Regions from separate parts of the Homo sapiens genome. Here region 2 is linked to region 1. Evidence: fine-mapped expression QTL. A gene starts in region 1. The other region holds a variant in brackets. All regions are shown on one strand. Distances are between the middles of the regions.

Region 1 (2,762 bases):
AGAGTGCTGGGATTACCGGCGTGAGCGACCGTGCTCGGCCGCAGGACGACTGTAGATGATATCGTATTGTGTGTTGAAATTTTGCTAAGAGAGTAGATTTTATGTACTCTTACCACACACACACAAAGAGGGTAGTCATTTCACAATGTCTCTATGAAATCATCATGTTGCACACCTTGTATACAACCAAAAATCAATTTTTAGAAATTGGTTTCAATCGTGTATGATATATATGTATATGCACATGTATATGAGATATTATGTATACGTATGTGTGGATATAAGACACATGTTTATGTATAGGTGGTCCCCAACTTAAAATGGCTCAACTTACAATTTTTTGACTTTGTGATGGGTTTATTGTAGCATTAAATACATTTTCAACTTACAATATTTTCATCTTACGATGGGTTTATCAGGACAAAGCCCCATGGTAAGTCCAGGAGCAAATATTTTTGCATACACAGGTATGTGTACATGATACATATTTATATGTATTGATGCTGTATCTATAGATGCATATGTGTGCTATGTATGAGGCAAATCTGCGCATGTCTGTGTACATGGTAAATATTTACGTCCGTCTGTGCGTGTCATAGACATAGAACAGGTGGGATGTAAACAGACGGGCTGGGCCTAGCTGCTCCTTTCCCGCCTCACTCGAGTCTGGCACCAGATTGGCCGCTCCCAGCCCGCTCCGGGTGCCGGCCCCTGCACCCCACCCTGCACCCCGCACCCTGCCCTGCACCCCATCCCGGCCCGTGCCTCGCACTCCACCTTTCCCGCACCCTGCCCCGCACCCAACACCTCCCGCGCCCCTCGCCGCGCTCCCCCAGCACGCACCAGGCCCCGCCCACTCCGCCGCGTGCCCAGCCCGCGTCACCGCCGTCCTCCCCAGGCTCCAGCGCGCCTTGCGGGGCCGCGCACGCTAGCGGAACCGCCGGGAAGAGCGCCGTGCCGTCAATGGCGGAGGCGCGCACGTCTGCAGGGCCGCGCACGTCTGCAGGGCCGCGCACGTCTGCAGGGCCGCGCACGTCTGCAGGGCCGCGCACGTCTGCAGGGCCGCGCACGTCTGCAGGGCCGCGCACGTCTGCAGGGCCGCGCACGCACTGACGGCTGACCGCCATCTTCCCTCCCGAGGCGGCAGTTCCAGGTGCAAGCGCCGGGTTTGCTGCCCGCTGGGCGCCCCTGCAGCGGCCCGAGCTGTGGCCGGCGTGGATGAGGGGCAGGCGAGGCAGGGCCGCCCCTCCAGTATTGCCGCCCCTCCCGCCCCAGGGCAGGGCTGGGAGGGTACAGCCCGGGGGCGGGCTCGGGTCGCCTCCCGGCCGCCGCGTCCTCGCTGCCCCGGGCCGGGCGGGCGGGCGCCGAGAGCCTCCCAGCCCGCCCCGTGCCCCGCCCGCCCGGCTGCTTCCGCGGCGGCGCTGCCCGCACATGGGCTAGGCTGCCAGGATGTTCAGCTTCGAAGGCGACTTCAAGACGCGGCCCAAGGTGTCCCTTGGCGGCGCGAGCAGGAAGGTGAGGGCCGGGCTGGCGGGGCGCCCTCGGCTCGGGGCCTGCGCGGCCGGGGCTCGGGGCTGGGACTCGGGGCTGGACTCGGGGCTGGACTCGGGGCCGAGACTTGGGGCTGGATTCGGGGCCTCCCTGGCGGGGACTCGGGGCTTCCTCGCCGGATCTCGGGGCCGCTCCGGCCGGGACTCGGGGTTGGACTCGGAGCCGAGACTTGGGGCCAGGACTCTGGCTGGGGCTTAGGACTGGACTCGGGGCCTCCCTGGCTGGAACTCGAGGCCGCGCCCGTGGGGGCCTTGCCTGTCCACTGCGCTTCGGGACCCGGGCGCGCTGGCCGTGGCTCCCTTCCATGCAGGAGGCCGGTGAACCCTGGCACGCTTTGTGCCACCCAAGGTGAACTTACCCTTTCTGGGTGTTTCCTTTCAGAAATGCGCTTTCCATGCTCGCTCCCGCATGGCATCAGGGAGTGGCTGCTTTTCGAATGCCACCTGAAGGGCGTTTTCGGTTGTAGAAGGTGAACGGCACGCATTTGCTGATGTCGATAATCTCTAAAGTAGAGGCAGAACGTCTCATGAATAGCCACGTGTTTGAATCCAAGACGAGGGCAATTATTTGCCACCAGCCTCCTGGAAACTGTGGAGAGACTCCGGACTTACATCTGTTGTGATCGACATTAAGTTGTTCGCATGGTAATTGTTTAGGATAAGGGTAGGCAAACCATGACGCCTCTGTTCTAGTCTAGAATTTCTAGCTGTCTGTCCCTGAAGACGGGCATCAGTTGGTTCACTGGAACCGCTAAGTCGTTGAACACTGTGTGGTCTTGTTCCCGCCCCTCCCTTCCCACCCCTTCCCATCATTTCTGAAATGTTCTTTAAAATGCTTCACCTAGTTTTTCTTGTCTATCAGTATATTCTGTATATCACAACCACCAGGTAGGCACATAACGCAGAGTGGGTGCTGGCAGGCCAAGGAGGAACTGCTGTTATTAAGATTGTGCTGTGGGGCTGTGTTTGGTGGTTTCTGAGGTTAGAAGGGAACCTGGGTAAAGAGTTGGGAGAGAAGTGTGCTGATAATTTTTCAGCTTTGAGGTTCGTGTGATGGTGATTGCTTGGAAGTCACTTGTGCTCCAGAACTAAGTACTGTGCAGTTAAGGGTGGTCGTGGTAGCACTTAGGGTCTTCCACGTTAATGAAAATGTTTTATGAGATCAAAGGATTTCTACAGTTAGGAGAGACTTCAGAGAATCTCAGGGCCAAA
Region 2 (3,024 bases), 34 kb after region 1:
TCCCCTCCCGGGCTCAAGCAATCGGTGGTGTCTCAGCCACCTAAGTAGCTGGAATTACAGGCGTGTTACCAACATGCCTGGCTAATTTTTGTATTTTTAGTAGAGACAGGGTTTCACCATGTTGGCCAGGCTAGCCTCCAACTCCTGGCCTCAAGTGATCCTCCCACCTCATCCTCCCAAAGTGGTAGAATTATAAGCATAAGCCACCATGCCCAGCCTTAGGGTCTCATGTTTTTAAAAAAAATCCCAAATGTAATCGTAGTTCTCTAAAATTTTGTAGGCTGTTGATCTTATCAGTGCTGAGGAACAGTGTGTATTAATGGTGGAAAATACAACCAGATGCATAGAAGAATAATTTTTTTAAAAAATGGAATTTGTTACTGTCCATTTTCTCAAGGAATATTAAGAGATTTGTATATAATTGTTGGGTTATATACATTTTTAAATATTTTATATATATATATATATATATATATATTTTTTTTTTTTTTTTTTTTTTTTTTTTTTTTTTTTTTGAGACAGAGTCTTGCTCTGTCACCCAGGCTGGAATGCAGTGGCATCATCTCGGCTCACTGTAACCTCCGCCTCACGGGTTCAAGCGATTCTCCTGCCTCAGCATCCCAAGTAGCTGGGATTACAGACGTGTACCACCACGCCCAGCTAATTTTTGTATTTTTAGTGGAGATGGGATGTCGCCATGTTGGGCAGGCTGGTCTCGAACTCCTGGCCTCAGGTGATCCACCTGCCTCGGCCACCCATAGTGCTGGGATTACAGGCATGAGCACTGCACCTGGCCTAGGTTAAATATGCTATTTATCTTTTTTTTTTTTCCTTTTTGAGACGGAGTCTTGCTCACTCTGTCGCCCAGGCTGGAGTGTAGTGGTGCGATCTCAGCTCACCGCAACCTCGCCTCCTGGGTTCAAGCGATTCTCCTACCTGAGCGCCCTGAGTAACTGGGGTTACAAGCTTATGCCACCACCCCTAGCTTAAATTTTTTTGTATTTTTAGTAGAGTCAGGTTTCACCATGTTGGCCAGGCTGGTCTGTACTCCTGACATCAAGTGATCCACTTGCTTTGACATCCCAAAGTGCTGGGATTACAGACATGAACCACCACACCCAGCCAGGTTAAATATATAATTTATTTTTGGAAATTTTTGTTTATCTGTGTTAAAAATTTCAAATTGCATGAAAGGGGAGTATACAGTGAAAAATAAGTCTTCCTCGCTACAAACCATCCCTACTAGAATGATCCTACTTGAATTAATTACAGCGGACAAAGGAATACATGATTATTCCTCTAGTGTTTGGCTTTAAAACCCAGCATTGCCTCCAGAGTTGAGCTAAGGTGGAACATGGTGAAGACTTTCTGTAAACCGAGAACGTGCAGAGAAGGAACTGAGAGCCAGTCTAGAGAGGCAGTGAAAGCCGTTGAATCTACCCATTCTGGACTTCAGTTAAGTGCAGGCTCTTTCCAGGCTTGCTTTCTGAAGTTGTTGAAAAAAAGAATCAGAATAGTACAACGGCAGATAATCGGGCTTGCTTTCTGGAACAGGATGTCCTGGCCTCACATACTCTAATCTTGTAGATT[A/G]CAAGATCACCAAGGAGCACAGACAGGCAGGTGCTGTGAGATGTCGATTGGTGTCTCTCCAGAGCACCTATTGCCTTTGAGTGAGGTCCTCAATCTTAGTCATCAGTCACGACATGGTGTAGCTACACAGTCTTGCTTCAGAAGCCATCTGTGAAAAGCTTGGAGGTAAATGAACATATTTGACTTTCGGCCTCGAGCAAATATCAAGCAAATTGCTCATGTGCAGATTCTGAAACCTGAAATAGAATTAAATGTCATAAGACCAGTCCAGGAAAAGGATAAAAGAAAAGTGGGCTGGACACAGTGGCTCAGGCCTGTAATACCAACACTTTGTGGGGCTGAGGTGGGAGGATCCCTTCAGGCCAGGAGTTTGAGACCAGCCTGGCCAAAATACCAGACCCCACCTGTAAAACAAAGCAAAAAATAAATTAGCTGGCTGCGGTAGCTTGCTGCTGTAGTCCAGCTACTTAGGAGGCTGAGGCAGGAGGATCGTTTGAGCCCAGGTATTCAAGGCTGCAGTGAGCTATGATCCTGCGACTGCACTCCAGCCTGGGCGGTTGAATGTTGATTCAGTTCTCAAGCATAGATGCGATAGCAATAAATTAATCTTAACGTAGGGGAAAATGTCTCCTGCCCCAGTCTTCACATTGTTTGCCTTCTACTCTAGGAGTAAGCATAATGCCACTTTTGATGGGTTTTCAAAGTTATTCTATGCAAAAATCAACATATATGGCTATTTCTTCCTCACCTCCTTTTTAAAAAATTTTTCTTACGACTTTAAGTCAAATATGGTACTAAGATTATATTTTATGTATAGTTTAATTCTGGAATTAATTGCCTCACTTTTTAGTTGCTTAATTTTCTTTGAATCTTTTGATAAAGTCTTCTTCCAACAGTCCTATTATATAATGTATAGTTATTTTACATCTTATTTGTTAACTGATAATAGAAATTTTAGGACGAACTACATGTCAGATGGTGAAGGGAGTATTCATACCTTATTCATTCCTGAGAAAATGTGGGCAAGGTGGCTCCAAACACCTCAAGAGAAAGCCTGTGTGTAGGCAAATTAACTAATATTCGGAGTAGTTCAGAATTATTTCATCCCAGTTTAAGACATGCGCTAATTTATTATGCAGAGTGCTTTTGTGTTGGTAATTTCATTGTTTAATAACGTTTTATGGCAAAGAAATGTTAATGTCGAAGAAACTACTTAAAAATATAGGCAAAGACAAGGCTATGTGGCGTATTTATGACTAGCTACACTTAAGAGGCTATCTTTGCCGAGGGTGGTGGCTCACGTGTATAATCCCAGCGCTTTGGGAGGCTGAGGTTGGTGGATCACTCGAGGCCAGGAGTTCGAGACCAGCCTGGCCAACATGGCAAACCCCGCCCCTACTAAAAATATAAAAATTAGCTGGGCGTGGTGGCGGG

The links. PIP is the estimated chance that this variant, and not a neighbour inherited with it, causes the effect.
Region 2: its variant is fine-mapped to the expression of UBE3C in whole blood (TOPMed, PIP 0.90).

Annotation. Positions count from the first base shown.
Region 1 is chr7:157,137,824-157,140,585 of GRCh38, forward strand. UBE3C (ubiquitin protein ligase E3C) reads left to right here and starts at 1,103. Exons shown (of 23, transcript NM_014671.3): 1 at 1,103-1,515. The coding sequence starts at 1,450. RefSeq lists silencers at 595-944, 1,225-1,614, 1,665-1,734.
Region 2 is chr7:157,171,210-157,174,233 of GRCh38, forward strand. All of the region lies in intron 4 of UBE3C (ubiquitin protein ligase E3C), which reads left to right. Among named protein-coding and RNA genes, the nearest start is that of UBE3C, 34 kb to the left of the region's middle. The variant A/G (reference allele first, on the strand shown) is at 1,591.